Homo sapiens: one gene and its partners. The protein of the gene in region 3 interacts with the protein of the main gene of each other region in a pairwise test. Each region holds a gene or a part of one and is shown on either strand. Other genes may lie near its edges.

Region 1 (7,315 bases), on a different chromosome or scaffold from region 3:
GGATGAAGTCTGGGAGGTTTCATGATGAGATGTAGAAAAAGCAGTTACAGAATTAGAATGGATATTTGGAATAGGGCTGCAGGATCTCCTTTGGAACAGACCACGTGGAGTCCTAAATAGCACAGCTATAAGAGTGTGAGTGTGTGTGTGTGTGTGTGTGTGTGTAAATGAATGAATCTTTCAATGAATTAACACTGCTTGGGAGCACAGCCATGCTTATTAAGCAGAGTTAAGGCAGCAGAGCTGGAGATGAGATCAGAGCAGGGACAAAGCCGTTCATAGGAGGCCTTGTGCGACTCTACCCAGCCCACCTTTCTTGCTGATACCTCCCTACCTCCCACCTGAGGAGAACTCTTACCCACGTAATCAGGGTCAATTCGGGGAGAGTAGAGGCCGAACTGGATGAAGATGGGAAGCAGGAATCCAAAGCGCAGCCACTCGATGACATGCAGGGGGGGCCGGCCGGCCGGGGGCAGCAGGTCACAGCCCAGCACCACACTCTCCCCAGCCCGGCCCACCACCGATACCACCTCAGGCTTCCCTCGACCTGCATGATGGGTGGCATGAGGGCACAACGGGGGGCTAGGGTCAGTGCTGGGAGGGGGAGTGCCATCAGTATCTCTGTAGGCACCTTAGGACTTTGGGTGACTGGAGAAACCCCCAGTTCAGCTTCTCCAGAACCAGCCCTATTCCTCCCCTGCCCTCACATGCTCAAAGAGGAACCCTTGAGGAACACCCCCATACCCACCCCAAGGCTAACAGGGCATTCTTGAGCCCAAGAGCTCAGCTTACCGTCAGCCCCCTGGCTGATGACCAGGCTGAGGACGGCCAGGCCGAGGCACCACACCATAGCCCAGCTGGCCTGCTCACCCAGCCCCTCCTATCCACAGGAGCCCAGATGGAGGGGCCAAGGGATGTCCTTCTGATCAGCTCAGGGAACAGGTTTCAGCTCTCACTCTTCTGTACAGTGAGGGCTTGGCTCATGTAACACCCGAGGAAGCTGCTCTCCGGAGAACCACCAGATCTAAATGAAAAGTACAAGGCAACATGCAGAGTTGGCCAATACTGGAGCCCAGAAGAAACCCCACCATTAGAGAAAGGCACTGGGAAGAGAAAGGAGGGAGGAGTGTAGTTAAGTGAGGGGTAGGGGGAAGGGGGGGATCTTGAAGCCCTGGGGAGTAAGAGCAGGGGTAGGAGTACTGGGAGAATGGTGAGTGCTGAATGCAGATACTAGAAAGGTGAGGAAATGGGGGAGGCTGGGAGAGTTGGGAAGGTCTTAGGAAATGTGGAAGGATTCTGGGGATGCCTGCATTCTGAGGGTCTTGAAAAACTAAGCCAGAAGAGAACTGGGGTTCCTCATATGCTTGGAAAAATATTTTTGAAGGAAGTATGGTAGATCAAGACTCTCATGGCCTAGGCTGCTCTCGCTTCTTTCCTTACTCTTGATGCTCACAAGGTATAGCAGCAAGATGGAACCAGTGCTGTCGCCTTCACCCCTCTGTGACAAATAAGGGCCCTGAGGATATCTGCTCAGGGGCAGAGAGCCAGTCAAGGGCAAATCCAGGGCGCTTAAGCCTCAGAAAGTGGTCCCCAGGACACCCCGATACAATCCCTTGTCCCATTTCCCCAGCCTCTATGAAAAACTCTGGAAGCTGAGGACCCGAGGCCTTTCTCCATTCAGTCTCCCTACACTGCTTTGGCAGTGAGTGAGTCAGGCACTTGGGAGAGGAGGAGCTGCCTCCCCCACCTGCCAGTATGGGGGATCCAGGCAGCATCCTCCAGGTCTGGACAGGTCCCGGGGCTGGCAGCTGGCGCCACTTCCTCACGATACTGCCAAGCAGCCCTCCCCCTGCCAGGCACCACCACCCAAGGACCTCACCCAAATCCCTCCCACTCACTCCCCTCCAATATCTTCGGGGTGCCAGGGTTTGTCAAGCTCTTTCTTCCCCAACCCCAGAGGCATGGTCCAAAAAAAAGCCTGTGAGTCCCTGAAGTGTACAAAATTAACCCTGGGGCATGGAGGGTAGGAGCTTCTGACAGCCCCACAGATCCTAGGGCAGTCTCAGAGAGCCAGAGGGTCCATGCCAGGGCCTGGCACTGCCAAGTGGACTCTGCTCTGAGTCCTCCAACCCACTCTTGGCCGCAAAGTTCAGGACAGACTATAAAACATCCTCCACAGAGTCTGATCCTTGCCTCTACTTAATGATCCTGTATGTCTAACTTCTGGCAATTCACTAGCAACCAAGCCCCCTGTTTCCCACTGCCTCCAGGCAGCTCTCCCACACTTCCCTGAAAAACCTTTTTCCAAGTATATAGGAACCCCCTAGTTCTCTCCTGGTTGTTTTCCGAGACTCTGAGTAACTAGGCATCCCTAGAATTCCTCCCAGTCTCTTAATATCTTTCCAACTCCCCCGGCCTCCACTATTTCCTCACCCTTCTAGTCTCCCCACACACCACTCCCTCGTCCTCCCATTACTCCCTTCCCAGTTATCGCTACTACGCACAATCCCCCCACAATTCCAGCTTCTCGCACCTGATCTCCAATTGCAGCAGGTCTCCTGCACTATAAAGAACTCCCTTCTGGTCTCCCCACCCCCCAGCCACTTCTCCCCATCCTCTCCTCCCGATAATTCCCCTCCCTGGGATTCTCCTGCATCAGCCCACAATACAATTCTGATACCCCACCCCCAACAATTCCTTTCTCCCTCGCATTCTCTGGTCCCCTGGAACTCCTCCTTTCTCTTAGAACCCACCAAGAACTCCCCCACATTGCCTCCAGAACTCCTGCAGTTCTCCGGGAACTCCCACCCACCCGCCAAGAATTCCACTTCACTCCCCAGAACTCCCCTAGTTCTACTCCTGCAACGAATTCCACTTCTCTCTAGAACTCCCCGCTTTCTCCTGTCCCCCATAACTCCGCACTACCAGCACCACCACTTCTATACCTCCAGTACGCCCCCTCCCTCACCTGCTCCGCACCGCTCGGCTCCACTCTCGCCGCTACACAATAGGGGGCGGACCCGCCTCCCCGCCTCGGATGCCCCGAGCGCCTCCCGTCGCCCTGGAGACCGCCAATCCCCCTCCCGCGGCGGCCAATTGGAGCCGCCAGAGGCACGGCGAGGCGGGCGGGACCCCTGAGCGGCCTGGGAGTTGTAGTTTCAGGAGGGAAGAGCTCGGCTGCACGTGGGCTCAGGTCGCCCCCTCGTGGACCTCTGCACAGCCAAGCGTGGAAAGGCCGGTGGGCCGCTTCCCGCCGCCAGCAAGAGGGGCAGCAGGGTCCGGCTCGCGCTCCAGGGCTGCGGGAGCTGGCCCCTTGCCAGGCTACTGGTACGCCGTCCTTCTTTCGGAACCTACGGGCGACCCTCTCCGCTCCCCGAACGGGCGCGCCACAGAGGCGGCAGCGAGGGTTGAAATCTGAGCCTGGGGGTAGGAGAACCAGGCGGGGAGCATGACTCCCCGCCCTCCTCCCAGGGGATCCACCCAGGTCCCGGGCTCATCCGATCTCCTCCCCCATCCCCATTTCTACCTCCACCCATTGCTTCTCTAGCAGGACTGGAAATACCTGTCTGCATTGGCGAGCTCCCAAATCTTGCCCAGGCGCCTCCCACCGTGTGCAGCTGAGGAAGGCTGTGCTCTGAGCGTGGGGTTGCCAAGTCAGCTCCCAAGGCAGCTCTGGCACCAACGACCCAGAGAAACAGGCCCAGAGGGGAGAAACGACAGATATCCTGACACGGGAGATTGAAAGGGAGGAATGAAATACAAGATCACTTACTGGACCCATGCAGGGTGCCAGACCCTGGACTAGATGCTTTATAACTCTTGTGTAACCTTCACAGAAACCCTGCGAAGTAAGTAGAGCTCCCTTTGACTAATGAGAAAACTGAGGCTCAGGGAGATGAAGTAACTTGGCCCAAGCTTTCCCAACTAGGTTATGGCAGAGCTGGATTGAGACCCAACCCAAACTTCATCAAACCTACTCCCTTGGAGGCTTCGCCCTCAGACACAAAGATATCTTGCATATCTTGCCCCTCAGAGATTCCACCTCCTCAGCCTGGTGATGCTGTAGGGATGCTGGGTCGGCTTAAGCAACATTGCCTGTCCAGGTCCTTCCCATTCAGTTGGCTCCCTTGGAAGCCTTCCATGAAAGCAACGTGCTGATCTCATCCCAATCCGAAGTACTAAGACTCAAACTGAGTGCACCAGGCATCAGACTCACAGAATCACTGCTGCAGCATCATGAGAGAACCTCCAGGATGGGCCTAAGCACTACTTGGCCCCAGAATCCCTGGCACATCATTTCTCCATGTAGTCATCCAAGCCCCTATCTCATTACATCCTGGGCCAGGAAGCTCAGCACTACTGTTGTACCCATTCCATCCTTAGTAAGCTCTGCCTGCTGGACAGTTCTTCCAGGTGTAAAGGTTTTAGTGCTTTTGGGTGACTGAGATGGAAGGGAAGAGGCAGGAGCAGTGGGCCAGTCTCTCCCACCATCCCTCCTGCAAATAGTCCCAAAGTAGCAGCTTTTCAACAATGCATTTCAACATAATACCCTGATCTATTGATAAGACTATAATGGAAACATGTTAATGAATGCAGCATGGAAGCAAGGCTAGAAGAAATGGTAAAAGAGTGAAGCGGGTTTTTTGTTTGTTTGTTTTTTTGTTTTGACAGAGTCTCACTCTATCGCCCAGGCTGGAGTGCAGTGGTGCAATCTCGGCTCACTGCAACCTCCACCTCCCGGGTTCAAGCGATTCTCCTGCTTCAGCCTCCCAAGCAGCTGTGATTACAGGCGGCCACCACCATGCCTGGCTAATTTTTGTATTTTTAGTAGAGATGGGGTTTCACCATCTTGACCAGGCTGGTCTTGAACTCCTGACCTCATGATCCACCCACCTCGGCCTCCCAAAATGCTGGGATTACAGGTGTGAGCCACTGCCCCCGGCCGAGCCAAGTGTTTTTTAGTCTTTGGATCTTTACCAATCATTGGGAAGGATCTCCCTCCCCGCTGTTAGAATTGGCCACACCTTTGATCTAAACTGCTGTCTCCAGTGGTTTCTTGAGGATAAACTAATCTCATTTAGACATTAAAATAACTTTCTGTTAAATGACATTTAAAATGGTTTTCAATTTTTAAAAGTTTATGATATGGCCTTTTTTTTCTGGAAACTTATTTTGTGACTTTTATTGTTATTGCCATTTTTTGTCTGATTTATATGTATATTGGAGATTTTTTGTTAAGAAAAGGAACCTAGCCCTATAACTTGTTCCCTCACTGTGCCAGGAGTGAAAGCTGATTTAAAAAATAGTCCCTGAGGTTCAAAACAAAAGACTTTCCTCTAGGTTGTCCTTGATTCATAGTCATTACTCTCTGGGAAAGCTTATTCAACCAACGAGGATTCCACCTAACCTAAGTATCAGGCAGCCCCCATATTTTCAAATTGCTGACAAGGATATCAGAAAATATTCTCTCTCTCCCCCTCCTCCTCCTCCTCCTCTTCTTCCTCCTTCTTCTCCTTCTCCTGCTTTCTTCTTTCCTCTTTCCTCCTCCTCCTCCTTCTCCTCCTCCTCCTCTGCTGCTGCTTTTCCTCCTCCTCCTCCTCCTCCTCCTCCTCCTTCTCCTTCTTCTTCTTTTCTCTCTCTGTCTCTCTCTCTGTCTCTCAGAGCTGGGGTATTCTCCTCCTCTTGCCTTTGAACATCAAAACTCCAGGCTCTCCAGACTTGGGACTGTGAGTTATACCATTGGCCTCCCTGGTTGTGAGGCTTTTGGAGTTGGACTGAGCCACACTTTTGCCATCCCAGGGCCTTCTTTGTGCATGTTGTAGGACTTGGCCTCCACCATCATGTAAGCCAATTCCCCTAATAAATCCCATCTCATATTTCTATATCTGTATCTATCTATCTTATTGGTTCTGTCTTCCTGGTGTATACCTAATATTTCAGCAGGCCTTGGGAAGAAAGGACCTGAGCTGCTCCATAGCCCTGCACAAAGAAGATGGTGTGACCTCAGAGATGTCTGCTTGGCATCGTTAAGCACAGGTGTTCCTAATCAGCAAAGTTTCTCATTGTCTATAGATAAGCAGAGAATTACTTGATATCAAATGAACCCTGAAAGGTGGAACACATGGGCTTTTAGTAGTGACCACATTTGATGTGTTAACATTGCTTGTACCAATTAAGCACCACATAACTATCCCATATTCTAGAATAGAAAGGGTGGCTTTAATAATCGATAATAGGGATGTTGTTAATCAGGCATATATTAAGTTATATCTGAGTTAAAAAAGAAAAGAAAAGATTGTCATCCAGGGACTCTGTTGACCACATGCCTGTAAGCAGCAGTCTTATTACCAGATCCGTAAAGAAGTGCGGTTTCTCATATATTGTCATTTAACTTTTTGTGTGCCTATCTTCTATCCCAATGAAACACTTAGCCCCACAAGGGTGTGGATATTGTCCTGTTTGTCTTTGAATTCCTGCTTCAGAAAGGCCCTGCTTACTTTTCCAGCCTGGTTTCTCACTTATCCCTTTATCGCAGTGTGCATGACTTTGCAGGCCTTAGAACTACTGTGCTCTTTCACATACCAGTGTCTTAGCACTTAGCTTCTGTCTCGATAGAATGCCCTTTTCTCCTTTCCAGACTCACTGCTGGCCACAGGTCAAATTTCTGTTGATCTGTTCCCTTCAGGACACATTCCGTGACTTTTCCCACCACGCCCTCACCTTCACCCCAGCCCTTTTCCTACCTTGTTATTGTATCTTTACACACTCCACAAAACATTCCTTGAAGGCAGAGGTGTCTCTTCTGCCTCCCCAGTGCTTGCCAAGTTCCTGGCATATTGCAGAGGTAGCGGCTTGTGCCTCTCTGAGTTTATATTCAACTTTCTTTAAGATCTCATCCTTCCTCTTCCAGAAGCTCGGCCTCTTTTGAGGCCTCAACCCTTCTCTGCTCAGAGATCGGCTGTAAGAAGAAGGAACTTTGCCAACTTCCAGGGAAATCCCTGGGCCTATCATACATTCATTCCTTTATTTATTCATCCTTTTGTTTACTTTCTATGAATTCAATCCTGCAATAACATGAGAAATGAGCTGCCTCTTTATGTGCAAGATGGACTCAAGGTGGCCTTTCCAGTCAGTCCCCATCCCTGCAGTGGTGCCTCCTAGGAAAGATATAAAAGGAATCAAAGGGATTGGGGGCTGCTGGCCTTTTTTGGAAGCAAGACTGCTCAGGGCCTAAGGGAAGCCCAGAGAACCAGCCTCAAGAAGGGACTGCCTTCCAGAGGGACAAGGGTTCAGGCCCTCAGAAAGTAGAGGGGAC
Region 2 (7,023 bases), about 100 Mb from region 3:
AATGAAAATAGAAGACACTTTTCACTGAGGGTAAAGCCCTTTTAGCAGCTCTAGATTTAGCCACAGAAAAATCACTCACTTTATTAAAAAAAAAAATAAATGAAAAAAAACAAAACAAAACTCTTCAAGCTGGCATTTGGCAGCAAGACAATGCTGAGAACATTTTCTCAACTCGGCTGGGAAAACCCGGGAAAGAACACGTTGAGGAAAAGAGGGTAACACTCTTCCGATCTGTTGGGACTATGCCAGAGAAAATCAGGCAACAGATTAAAGAGGCTTGTCAGTCACCCCACTGGTTTCAGGGGCACATTACTCACTACCACCTCTATGCAATGAGTCACCCCTTGCAGAACCCGTCACAGCTCAAGTTTAATCAACCTCACAGCAGCGGGAAGGTGCATCACTCTGTCTTCCCATAAAAGATGGGCCACTGCGGCACCAAGGCATAGAGGAAGAGCTACAAGTTACACAGGTGAGAAGAGTATCAGGGACAGTGTCCATGGGAGGGGAGGAAAGAAGATTCCCAGGCAGAGGTATGTGAAGCCCACTGAGCCGTGGGCTCAGCCATGGTGATCTGGTCCCAGGGAAAGAGGTGGTCACTGAGGCATCATGAATTCAAGGAGCACCTTCTGCTGCTACTCCTCATGGTCAGGCTCCTCATCACTGTCCTCCCCCAGAGGAAATTCCTTCGTGGGCTTCTGGGTTGCATACATCCGGGTCTCCATGGGGCAGTCCTGACTCAGAATAGCCTGCAGAGAGAGGCAAGAAGAGAAGCCACTGCACATTATTATCATTTTTTTTTTTTTGAGACGGAGTCTCGCTCTGTTGCCCAGGCTGGAGTGCAGTGGCGCAATCTCGGCTCACTGCAAGCTCCGCCTCCCGGGTTCATGCCGTTCTCCTGCCTCAGCCTCCAGAGTAGCTGGAACTACAGGCGCCCATCACCACGCCAGGCTAATTTTTTGTATTTTTAGCAGAGACGGGGTTTCACCATGTTAGCCAGAATGGTCTCGATCTCCTGACCTCGTGATGCGCCCGCCTCAGCCTCCTAAAGTGCTGGGATTACAGGCGTGAGCCACCGCGCCCGGCCAACCACCGCACATCTTTTTTTTACCAATCTCCTCATTCCGTCCTCCCACTAGTTCTTCCAAGGCTGGCATTGCTAAGTACTCAAGAAACATGCATAGGACCCTCTGCATGTACATGCACCAGCCTCCCGGGGTACCTAGTATATCAACCCTTGTCAGGACAAGTATCTCATTTGCTTTTAACTGAATTTAACAGTGGTAGTGAAAGTTACAGCAGGAAGCCAAATGGAATCACCACCACTCCCTATCACACCTTCATGTCTTCTTTTGTTCCCTTGAGCAGCCTCTGTCGGTATCCCAAACCCATCAGGCCCTCAGGATGTTTGTGCTGCAGTAAGAGGAAAGTGCTTTATTAAAGAAAATCCTATGGTATGGATCTCTTCCCTGGGGTTTTTGTACTTTTAAAAACGTGACCTGCTGACCAACATGGATAAACCCCATCTCTACTAAAAATACAAAAAATTAGCCAGACATGGTGGTACATGCCTGTAATCCCAGCTACTTGGGATGCCAAGGCAGGAGAATCTCTTGAACCCGGGAGGCAGAGGTTGTGGTGAGCCGAGATCACACTATTACACTCCACCCTGGGCAACAAGAGTGAAACTCCATCAAAAAAAAAAAAAAAAAGTGACCTGGTAAGGATAATGTTGCACTAGAGTGAATGAGTGGATGAACGGATGTGCCAATGGAATTCTGCCCACTTATGAGGGAGTTAACTTGGTAACTCACATCTTGCTAGTAACTAGCAAGCTAAGAACAGTAACTACAGGATGTCTTTGATGGTCCTCTGCCCCCATTTCCCTTCTCTACTGAAGACCCTTCCTGATAGCCCCAGAAAGAGGGAAGTGGTTACTTAGAGAAGGGAAATTAAGGAAGTGCACAAAAGAAATATGAAGATGAAAGGGGATTGGGAAACATGGCAAAGCAGAGAGAGTATCAACAGAGCAATAGAGGGAGGAAATAACAGCCCAGGATGAAAGGGAATGAGAGAGATGATGGAAAGAAACAGAAGTGAATTTCTCTTTTAACAGTCGGTGCTCCTTACAAGCTTCTCTTCCTTTGCCGGGGGGCTCCGCAGGTAGTAGCAGAGTGGAGCATAGACGATGTTGATGACCCCAGTGATGACCATGAGCCAGGGAAAACCGATGGCCTTTACAATGGCACCACCGGTGGATGGACCTGGGAGGGATACATCAAAGTCATAAGTGTCTATGGAGCCTCCATATGGAGCATCCTCCACGTAGGACACTATGCTAGGGGCAGTGGGTGACCCAGAGGATGTCTCAGCGTCAAAGATCTCCAGAACCCTAGGAGGATAGCTTCCTGGCTGCACTTCCAGCTGGTAAAGAGTAGACAGGGGAAAGTGGGGCACCAGGTCCTGCCAACATACCTATAGCAAAGCCCATGCAAAAAGCCACATCAGCGATGGCGTAGACACTCCCATACACCGAGGTGTGGCGTAGATCCACCAGGTGCCCCATGATGGGCATCATAGAAGAATCCACCATGCCTGTGGCCAGAGCAAACAGGACACAGTCAGCCCCACCCACAGTTAGTACCACCCCGCCTCTCCTCCTCCATTTAGTCCATTTGCTTTGTCTGCTGTCTTCTGCCTCGGACTAACACCTGTTCCAGGTGGGAATTACGAGCTCATCTCTCCACAACCCTGCCAGCTGCCCTCCTGATCCTTCTGCCTCTGCACCTACCTCCTCTGATGAGAAAAGGGGGAGGAAAGGCATCAGACCCAAAGCCAACATGCAGGGGCTTATTGTTTTCTTTGAGGGCACTTCTTACCTATGGCAAGGCCAAGCCCTGCATTGGGGCCAATGAGACCAAAAATATTGTGAGCCAGAGGAACCTGCATGGGGAAGGAGGAAGAGTCATCAGGACTCCAGATGGGTCAGGTGGGAGCAAGGTTCAAAGAGTTTTCACATGAAATGCATTTATTCAGAGTGCACTATTGGCCACATACATCATCCTCCTGCACTCTCAGACTTTCTCATGGAAAAGAATCTATACCTCCATTTTAAGGATATGAAAACTTGACCAGCGCTGTTGTGTTTATTTATTGCTCTATCCAGAGTTACAGATCTAATGAGTGGCAAGATCAAGTTTGGACCTCAGACTTGGCTCCATTATGCTCTAACGAGGGTCTTCCTCTGTTCCATGGATACTTTCTCCCCTTCCTCTACCCCTCTTCACCTAAACATACACTCCTGGTCTCATTCTTCATGGAATAAAGTTGCCTCTGTTTTCCATTATGGACATCACTGAAAGGTTTCATTTAGACTTCTAACTTGGTAGCTGTTGGAAAAAGAAGATAGAGAAGAGGCCCCAACAACCAGTTAGCTGTAAGCTAGAGGGGGCAGGTGGTGTGGCTTGGGTCCCCTGTCAGGAAGCTTGTGAGACTCATTCCCATTGCCCTCCCAATCCCCCAACAAAAACCCCTTCTTCCCTCTTTTTCAGGTTCCTTACCTCCCTCTCTGGGTACCTGCCATTCAAACCTGCTACCCCAGGACACTCACCCCTTAAGGGTTTAGCATACCGTTTAGATGCTGCTGGCTGATAACAATTTTTAGGGTTCATGCCTCAAGAAATGTTTATAAATTATCAATAGTATTGGCTGAGATTCACTATGGGCTCACCATGTGCCAGACACTGTGGTTTATTTGGATTACCTTGACAACCCTGTGGACACCATCAGAACCCTCTCTACATAGATGAGGATGCTGAGCACACGGAGATGAAGTAACCTGCTCAAAGTCACATGCATAGAAAGTGGCAAAACCTGCCATGGAACCCGGATCCCATGCTCCTGCTCAGGACCTCCAGCTGGTCTTGAGCACAGTTTACAGTGCCTTGTAGCCCTGTTCTTCTCTCCCTCAGGCCTAGGAGGTTTGTGTGTTTCTCATCCCCACTGGGGAGAGGAGGAAATGAAGGCTTTGAGAACTTGAGGGGGATTCTTGGAAATGGAAAAGTCCTTCTTTCTTTCTTCTTCTATCAAGCCTCTGGTGCCAGAGACTGGGACATAGATGATGGTTCCCTGGGGATTTATGAGGCTCTGTCAGGGTGGGATGAGTAAATGAAGTCATAAAACGCACCATTTTGCCATCCCCAGAAATGGATACCAACATGTATCACTTCATATGCCCACATGTACAGCCTCAGACCTCCGGCTCCAGCTGCCCTACAGCCCTCTTCCTCTCCTTTCCCACTTCCCCTCAAAGGAAAGCCACTGCAGCTGGTGGCCTCTTCCCCCGTGCTAAATTCCTGCCTATTCAGAAACAGTCTTTCTGACAGTCCTTGCCAAGCCATCTCTGCTCATCTTAAAGGAAATTAGTCTTTAAATGTCTGTGTCTTTCTCTCTCTCTCTCTCCCTCTCTCTCTCTCTCTCTCTCTCTCTCTGTCTGTCTGTCTCTCGCTCTCTCTCTCCTTCCCCTCCCCCAGGTCTTCTTATACTTACACAGAGCAAGCTGGTACCTACTACCAGCATCCCGATTAGGGAACACAGCCACCTGGAAGAAAAAAGCCATCATCAAACACCACTAGGGGAGAGCTCCCCTCCACCTGTACCCCATCACCGCCATGCTGACCTGTCCCACCAGCCCTAATCCCAGCAACCCCTTAGGACCTGAGGACAGCATCCCTACATGACCAGTTTGTACCCAAATGAGCTCTCTCCCTGCCCTTTCCTTGTCTCCCCTGGCTCCATCCCTTTTTCTATAGAAAGGCAGAGGAGGTGCCGTGGGACACACTCTTCCTTCCCTTACAGGAGGAATCAGCTGACTCAGGAGGCACTTGTTCCTTAGAAGTAGCCCTCAAACTTAACTCATGCTGTTGCCCAGCTCAGACTGCCTCCTACCTGTCCTATTTTATTTGGTCCTTGAGGTCTGTCTCAAAAAACACAGAAAGTACCAAACTTCTTTCCTTCTCTGATGTCCTATGGCAGTGCTTCTAAAATCTTGATGCTAAACTCCAAAGATAAAATTAAAGCTGTCCTTATTGTAGTGAAGGGACAGAATGGAGACTCATAGCTCTTGGCCCCCAACCCTTCCTCCTCAGTGGCCTCTGGGGTGCCTCTATAGAACTCCTTAGGATTCCACAGAACATAATTTGAAAACTACTTTCCCAAAGTACTGCATTTTTCATAGCTGTTCTCTGTTGTGGTTATTTTATCTCCTCAACTGGACAGCAAATGGATGGAAAGTAAGGGGTGCCCCTCATGTATCCACTGCCTCTTCTATAACAATCAGCTCAGAGCTCAGGACAATCCATTCTCCATACCACCCTCACCACTCACTCACTGCCCATCCTCCCAGTGGGAAGTTTTTATCGGTGTGTACTCATCCTAAACTTTCAACCGTATGGAAGCTGTTCATCATTCCAAGATCAGGAACGGGCGCTCTTCCATCTTACATTTCTACTGTTCGTCCCAGATCCCGAGGCTACATACCGACCCATCTTGTTGGCCAACACACCAAAGAGGTTGGTGCCAATGAGGTAGGACACACTGGCAGGCAAGAAAGCTAGACCTGTGGAAGGACACAGATCCTTACCTTAGGACATGTCCAATTTACTCTAAAATGCCTTGTCTCGTACAAGACACTGAAGTCCACCCCTGTAACCTTCCAAGATCCCCAAACCACTTTGTTTTATGATCTGGGGACCTTTGTGCAAACCCACAGTAGTTGCCATAGGACCCCCACACCTCTCCTTTCTTCAGGAGCAAGGCTTTGTTTAGCCTCAGTACTTTTCTTTTTGTTTTCTTTCTTTTTTTGAGACAGGGCCTCACTCTGTCACCCAGGCTGGAGTGCAGTGGTACAATCTCAGCCCACTGCAGCCTCGACCTCCTGGGATCAAGTGATCCTCCCAGCTCAGCCTCCCAAGTGGCTGGGATTACAGATGAACACCACCACACCTAGTTGTTTTTTTTTGTTTTTTTTTTGTTTGTTTGTTTGTTTGTTTGTTTTGTAGAGATGGAGTCTCGTCATGTTGCCCAGGCTGGTCATGAAATCCTGCCTGCCTTGGCCTCCCAAAGTGCTGGGATTACAGATGTGAGCCCCCACACCTGGCCTAGCCTCAGTACATTTAATGTGCTTCCAGCTCCCCACTTAGATTCCTAATGAATGGCCCTGATGAGCCGTTCTCATGTATAAAATACCCTTGATTATCAGCGTGAGAATGTGAGCTTCAGAGGTGGTGTGGTTGGGTGCCACATACCCATACATAATTCCTGGGAAGTGAATTCCTGCCTTGCTACTTACCAGCCCTTCTATTTCTCTGAGAGGGATCTTGGATTAATTACTAAACCTTTCTGAGCCTTGGTTTCCACATCTGGAAAAAGCAAAGCTATGATTATATCATACCGGGTTACAATGTGGAGCAAATTAGGTAATGCATGCAAAAGTATTTTGTAAATTGAAGTCCTGAACACATGGCTTTTTGTGACAGTAGAGGGAAGTGTTCAGGAAACATGGGCTTTGGAGCCACACAAAGCTCCAAATTTTGCATTCAAACCATGGCTTGATGACTTGTTAGCTCTGTGACTTTGGACAATTTACTTAACCTGTCTGAGTCTCTTCCATTCATTCATTCATTCATTCATTCATTTTAACAAACTTTGACCATGTGTCAGGTATTCTGGGGGCTGGGAATACAGCGGTGAATAAGACAAACAAAATTCTAGCCCTCAGCTAGCTTACACTCCAGGGGAGGGAGACATACAATGAACAAGTAAACAAATACACAAAAAAGATAATTTTGAAAAGTGTTGAGTTATGTGCATGAAATTTAATGTGGTGATATAGCAGAGCAACTCAGAAGGGCTATCTGGGATTTCAGGGTTGGGGAAGGCTTCTTTGGGGAAGTGACATTCAAACTGAGACCTTAATAACCAAAAGAGAGCACTTCAAGCAGAAAATAAAAAGCACCTAATGGA
Region 3 (7,023 bases):
GGCCAATCTCAAGTATTTTATCAATTCTAAGTTGCCATCATTTATTGGATACATCCTTACTTTATGAACTGTAAGAAAGAAAAAATATTGCTAATTAAACTATGTATACTACCAACAATAAGATGGATCCTGATATCAGATACGTTAAAATGCATCTGAGAATGCCTAAAATGTGGTATTTGTTATTGAATGATACCCCCCAAAAGAGAGAAGAGAAATAGTTTTTAAATACAAAGACTTCCAGAAAAATCTTCATCTCTAAACAAAAACAATTGTTTTATGATGCAATATATAGCTAAATGGCTTTAAAATCTCTTAGATCATTTGGTTCTATTAAATATATCAGAAAGCTATACAATGACTGTAATATTCTCATTATTTACTTTAATGTTGGAAACTGGGAATAGAATGTTTAAGAGATGATATCATGATACATTTATGCCAGGAATTCGAAGAATATAAAATTCTTGCCATGGTCCTAAAACAAAGAAACTTTGTTTTTAACTGTGGCTTTGGCCCCAAACTCCAGTGCAGAAGTCTAATATAAAAGGTTAAGGTTAGATCACTTAAAAAGCTGCTTTGCCTAGATTATAGGGCTAAGTAAACTTCTAAGAAAAAATTCAAATCTGAAATTGTAACACTCAAATGAGTCAAGGAAAGAAGAGACAAAATCAAAGACAGAGCAAGACAGAGCATATTTATCATAATAATGTCCACTTAGTCTAATTTATACTCCCCCAGGCTTCCCCAAGCTCAGGAAGCAACTCAGGCCATCTGCTACTTGGAACAAGAATGTAAAGAGAGAGAGAAAGCTGGCCTTTTCTAAATAGATGTCCTTAGTTTGTTTCATTATTCCTGCCACATAAAGTAAAGAGAGCAAAAAACAGCCAAACCCATATATGCTTTGGCCATTATTTCCTTTGAAAGTTCCCCCCTCTAGAAAACATGTCTAGTCAGTATCCTCAAATTCGAGCCATATCCCTTCTCTTTGGGTTTTCTGGGAGTAGGGTGAGGTGGAATAATGAGAGAGGTTCTTCCTTTTACTCCTGTCTTACCCTTGGAGATGTCTATAAAATACATATAAATACTTCAGTAAACACAAATTCCATTTTGCTTACATTATGGTAAATTTAGAATAAACTTTTGCATACATCAGAACCACTCATGAAAATTACTAAACACAACTGCCAGGGCTCCCTCTCCAGAGACACTAATAATGTATAACTGGGATATCACCCAGGCATCTATATTTGATGGATACCAAAGATTTAGTACTATTAGTTTAGAAAAAGTAAATTTGAAATTTTAATTCTAGAAAACAAAGAAAAATGAAATATTCTTTTGTTATGCTTCTCAATTAAAGAAGAGTGGGGAACAGAAAGACAGCAAGTACAGAATATACAAATGAATAAGTGAATGAACCTACCCAAGTCCAGCTAGATCTGACACAAGATTTCCCAAAGCAGCAGCTAAAAATTTGAAAAATAAATAATTGTTACATAAAAGAATAATAATTATATCACTATGTAATCAATAAAGCACTGATCTTGGAAGAGTTCTCATATTTCTCAAACAACAGCAACCATATCCAAAGTAACTCATTGGACAGCTCTTACTCTCAAGGTTTTGAAATAGAACACAATTTTGAAATTATGCTATTCTACCTCCATTAAGTAGTAGGTTTTTTTGTTATGGCAGCCAATTTCCATTTTGGTTTCAATATTAATTGTAGAATATTTTGTAGTATCTTTCATATAATATTTAAAGGAATTGGTAAAGTTGCATGTACAGCTATGAAATTCAAGAAAGTCAAGGAGAAAAATATGTTTCTTTCATTAACTCATTTACCTAATGCTTTCTACAATAAATACAACATAGAACTCTTCCCAAATTTTACCTCTGTGAAGAATAGAGTGGTAAATGGGACAGAGAAGACAGATGTTTAATCCTGTATTTCCTTCTTTGATTTTTCTACCCAACTCAAGAAAAAAAAAATTCTACCCAACTCAAAAATAAATAAATAAAAAATAAATAATAGGCTGGGCGTGGTGGCTCACATCTGTAATCCTAGCACTTTGGGAGGCCGAGGCGGGCAGATCACGAGGTCAGGCATTCAAGACCATCCTGGCCAACATGGTGAAACCCCGTCTCTACTAAAAATACAAAAATTAGCCAGGAATGATGGCAGGCGCCAGTAGTCCCAGCTACTCATGAGGCTGAGATAGGAGAATCCCTTGAACCTGGAGGTGGAGGTTGCAGTGAGCTGAGATTGCACCACTGAACTGCAGCCTGGGTGACAGAGTGAGACCCCGTCTCTAAATAAATAAATAAATAAATAAATAAATAAAAGAGACCAAGGGTAGAAATGTTTAGGGGTAACACTGAATTGCCAGAAAATCTTGTCTTAACGAAATCAATATAGCAGAGTATTGTTATCCAATAACTAATAATATAAAGTACCTAAAATTTTCAGAAAAAGTGCTACATGTACAAAACTAAGAATCAGAAGAATAGGATGAAGAAAATTAACAGATATCTCAATGAGTAAACTCATTCAAATAAATTACCCTCCTCTAAACTTAATCTACTGAAATGTTTTATAAGTGTACAATGAAATAATAACATTTACTACTGTTAAATACCTGCCATAGTTGAAATTCCCAAAATAATTCCAATAGACATTTCAATATGGGTTCCCTGAAATATGATAAAAAATTAATCTTAAAAATTAAAGCTGAAGTGACTATAAAAGAATAGCAAAGCATTAATAAAAACAGATACAAGTTAAATCAACATGTTAGTGCTGCAAAATTACATACATCATATATGCACATATAATATAGTAATTCATTAAATTATTAAATATATGCATTCATACAGAAATAACATCAATAACATTTTATTCATTCAAATTAGGCTTCTAAAAATAAAATTAGCAACACATGTAGAAATATAGTTCATCATTAAAAATCTAGAATTTCTATTTTTCTACCACAGAGAAAAATGCTTTAAAGCTCTTTGAAAACAAGACCGACTCACATTGATTTTAAATTCTGAACTATACATCTATACTATTGTTATTTACTCTATCAAAAGATTAAAAGGAGACTAAACCAGTTTCTAGGGAAATTGGGGTTTATAAAATTATCCTTATAACACTTAGCTCTTGAACCATTAAGTAGTGAAACTATACATTCAATTTATAAGCAGCAACGGCATTTAGTACAATAGATCTACACTCAAAACAAAGCCCCATCGTATCGCCACTGAATTTAATGACAGAGTTTAAGACTTTCTATATGTATATCATCATTCCTCTGAAGAAAAGAGGGGCTCATATTTTACTTTCATTTTAAAGAGGAGGAACTGAAGTGAAGACAATTAAACTATTCTAACAGAATAAAGAAGAAATCCTAGGATCTATTGTGCTAATTCAATTCTAATCCCTGAGCAATGCTGCCATTAGAAGACTTAATTTTCAAGAGTTCTCTTGAATACTGATGCTTGAACATTTCTAAAAAATGCTTCAAATCTCAATGATATTTGTGGAGGGAAAAAAACGCCCTGTATTTTACGTAGAAATAATGCATTACTCATCAATTATTTACAAAACTGAAAAGAGGTTTCCTCAAGTTTCTTTCCCCTAGAGCTTTTGGCTGCATCACTTTAAGATATAATTCTTGTCGAATATGGACCCAACAGTCTGATGCACTGAAGTTCAAAAGTCTTTTGTCCTGATGCACAAAGTTCAAATGACAAGGTTGTAAATATACCCCAAGAAACAGATTTCTGAAGAAGAAATAAAGAGGAAGAAAAGGTAAAAACAGGCAGAGAAAAAGAATAAACATATGTATCATCATATCTGAATGCAAAAAAACTGGAGCACCAATATAGAAGAGAGGCACCTGATAACAACAGTCTAATAAATATGGCATCTTTAACAGCAATGAATCGCTGGCAGTGGCCAAAGAAGAATCTCTTGCAATACATACATTTAAAAAATAGTTAAGTGCTTAATCATTTGGTTGAATGTAACACAGCTGAAGGTCCTTCTAACAGCAGGAAAAGCCCCATATAAAGTCAAAGATGGTTTGGGGGCAATGGACTATCCACTTCTTTACTGTGTCCCATAGTTACATCAAATTTTGTGTTAATAGGTGAGGTAGAAATTATAAATAAACCGAATACTAATAGTTGTCTTAAAGTTATACCTGGTTCATTATCCTTAATACAATTAATCTACTCTAGAATTCTAATAAATTCTATCCAATTAAACTGTAAGTAAAGTAACCCAAAACTAACCCTAAAATATAAGTTATAAAAAGCAATCCAATAATATAAAAATATTTTTTAAACTATGAAACAAAAGGCTTAATATGAACACCAACCAATATAAAGGCCAAATCTATTACAAGAGGTTACACACCTCTTTGTTTTTGTTTGAATTTGTTTTTACGACTACAACTAGGGTGGGAAAGTACACCTAACAGGAAGGAGGAAAACATCAAATGTCTATGGTATAAAAAAAAAGAAGAATCAACTATCTCCTCAACTTACTATCTTAAAACAGTCATAGCTGTCCCACAATGAGAGGGGTTGATCAGTATTTTTTTAATTAAAAGATGAAAAACATTCTTAAGATAATAATCACTTATTTCCCCTTTCATAGATTCTACAGTTACATTATTTATATGTTTTAGTCTCAGCATTCTATATAACGAAGCCTCACTGGAAAATTTTATTGTCTCTGAATGAGTTTGCAGCTATCACAGGATAATATTTTTGCCACACCTACTACTCTTAACTTGAAGTCAGTGGCTTAAACATTTATTTCAGTATTATTTAAATAAAAACTGATTTTCTGTGTTCTGGATGTGCTGGGGAAAAAAATAAGAAAAAATAAACAAAATGGCCCATAAGCCCCTGAAACTGGATTTCAATAGAAACAGAATAACAGGTATTACTAATTTGGAGTCAGCCATCTCAGGCCTGGAAAAATAGTGCACTCTTAGTTATACTAACAATGAGGCACAGACCTGGGGAACACCAAATAGTGAACTACAAATTACTACAATAATTTGACTCTAGAATGTGGGTGTTTGGTTTGGTAGCTGATCCCCATCAATCTGGACATAAGGCTAGACTATATAGCAAACAAAACCATTCTTGAATAAACCATGTTTACATAAATTTTATAATCTATACAATGTAAATTACTTTTAAAATTCCTACTTTGAAACCAAATCTTCTATTTATGTCCATTTGTAGTACACGTGATCTCCAAAACACCAAAAAGAAAACCTGCATCTCTCATGTATATTTTCCTCACATTCAACAATCCTAAGGTCATTCCACTTTTTCAGTAGTCTCCTACACTTTAGCTATCATTTACAAAATGTTTTTAAAAGTTAGAGTCAGTGAAACTGACAACAAACTCTCTAAGTCCTAACTGAGAAAAGTTTCTAGTTGTGAAGCACTTCGATTTTCTCAAACAAGTTTAAATAAAGACCCCACCTGGGAACTCATAAACTGGTATTCAAAGTATATGATATTTTTTTCTCCTCCCACTAAATGTACTGAAGATCTATTACCTTCAATCTAATGCTAATATCTGAAAAGAATGACTTCACATAAGGTATTCTAAAAATATGTATTGAAAGTTGATAATTGCCATAATAACTGGACTGTGATCAATCTATTTTACTTGGACAAAATAAGAGGAGTGAATAGTTTTTTGACTGATTATGGCATTTTCATAATATGTATATAAGAATAAAACTGGCCAATTTATGTATCTGTGAATGTGAGAAACTTATTCAACTATTTAGAACCACACTGCCTTCTCGGAAACTACTAAAATCTGAGTTGGCTAGATTATTTAAACAATTAATGTAAATCAAATCTAATTGTAATGAAAACCCCATTATGATAAATTCATAAGCTGTAGCTAACACTTGGTATGTTCTTGAAAACAGAGCACTGGGCAGTTTTTGAAGACTTGCATTTTAATTATGGATCTACTTCTGACTTTAGAATATGAACCTAATATTGGTATCCATTAGCAGGCCTTATATAGTAGTAAGAAAGGTAAGTCAGCCATCTCTGAGCTTAAACAGGTTTAAGGAGCACCCTTACATTAAAATACCACAACAAAGGGGAATTTTTTTTAACACTACAATGGAACAAGGCAAAAGGGAGATACAGTCACTTAATTGAATTGAAACTTTAAACAATGGCTAGACTGAAGGCTAGACTATGTATCAAAACATGCTTTAAAACATTTTCACATTGGAAAATTGAACAAGGAACTAAATCAAATAATTACCTATATATGTGATAATTGCCAACACCATTAAAGAACATCAGAACATTTTACATATTATTTTTCTTTATTAAGAATGTTGAAATTAGAATAGGACAATATAGGCCTTTAATGTTCTGTCTGAATGCTCTACCAAAAGTCTATTTGTCTAAATGCTTTACCTAAAGTCTTAATGATTAATAAATATTAAATATAGCTTAATTAAAATTGAGCTATAGTCTGAGATATAGTAAAAAATATCCTTGTTCATTATGATATTAAAACTTTATAATCACAATAGAAAAATTATTAGGAAAATGTAGACCACATTAATTTATGAACTCAAAATAGAAGCAGTGAGAGAAAGAACTTACAGCAACAATCATAATTGCATTATCCAAAAAGCCAAACCCTATGAAAGGTATCGCATTGTGGATGAATACTGAAAAACATCAAAAACAGAAAAATATATTTTAAGATTTCTATAACTTAGAATGACAAAAACAGATGATATGATCAAAGTATCCTAAACAGACTTGATAATCTCTAGAATTTGATTCTCATTTTCCAGAGCCAATAGATGCTGCTACTGCTATAAGTAGAAACTATATTGGGAAAAAACAAAACAAACCAGAAAAAGTATAAAACATGTAAAAATAACTGTGTTAGACTTTTGTGTTTTCTTACTGGTAACACACACACACACACACACACACACACAC

The links. The genes of interacting proteins can lie anywhere in the genome.
Region 1: the proteins of TMEM65 (region 3) and IGSF9 interact in binary tests that used the Homo sapiens proteins (3 or more experiments, as listed by UniProt).
Region 2: the proteins of TMEM65 (region 3) and SLC18A1 interact in binary tests that used the Homo sapiens proteins (3 or more experiments, as listed by UniProt).

The regions. Positions count from the first base shown.
Region 1 is NC_000001.11:159,942,605-159,949,919, forward strand, and holds the start of IGSF9 (protein turtle homolog A isoform a precursor), read right to left. Parts: upstream 3,010-7,315; 5' UTR 2,969-3,009; intron 1,025-2,968; 5' UTR 851-1,024; coding exon 793-850; intron 548-792; coding exon 359-547; intron 1-358. UniProt on the Homo sapiens protein: Functions in dendrite outgrowth and synapse maturation.
Region 2 is NC_000008.11:20,145,128-20,152,150, forward strand, and holds part of SLC18A1 (chromaffin granule amine transporter), read right to left. Parts: intron 5,618-7,023; coding exon 5,539-5,617; intron 4,601-5,538; coding exon 4,549-4,600; intron 2,944-4,548; coding exon 2,880-2,943; intron 2,596-2,879; coding exon 2,476-2,595; intron 2,265-2,475; coding exon 2,131-2,264; intron 750-2,130; coding exon 636-749; 3' UTR 1-635.
Region 3 is NC_000008.11:124,320,679-124,327,701, forward strand, and holds part of TMEM65 (transmembrane protein 65), read right to left. Parts: intron 6,744-7,023; coding exon 6,676-6,743; intron 2,698-6,675; coding exon 2,643-2,697; intron 1,470-2,642; coding exon 1,427-1,469; intron 1-1,426. UniProt on the Homo sapiens protein: Essential for maintaining proper cardiac intercalated disk (ICD) structure and function as well as cardiac conduction velocity in the heart.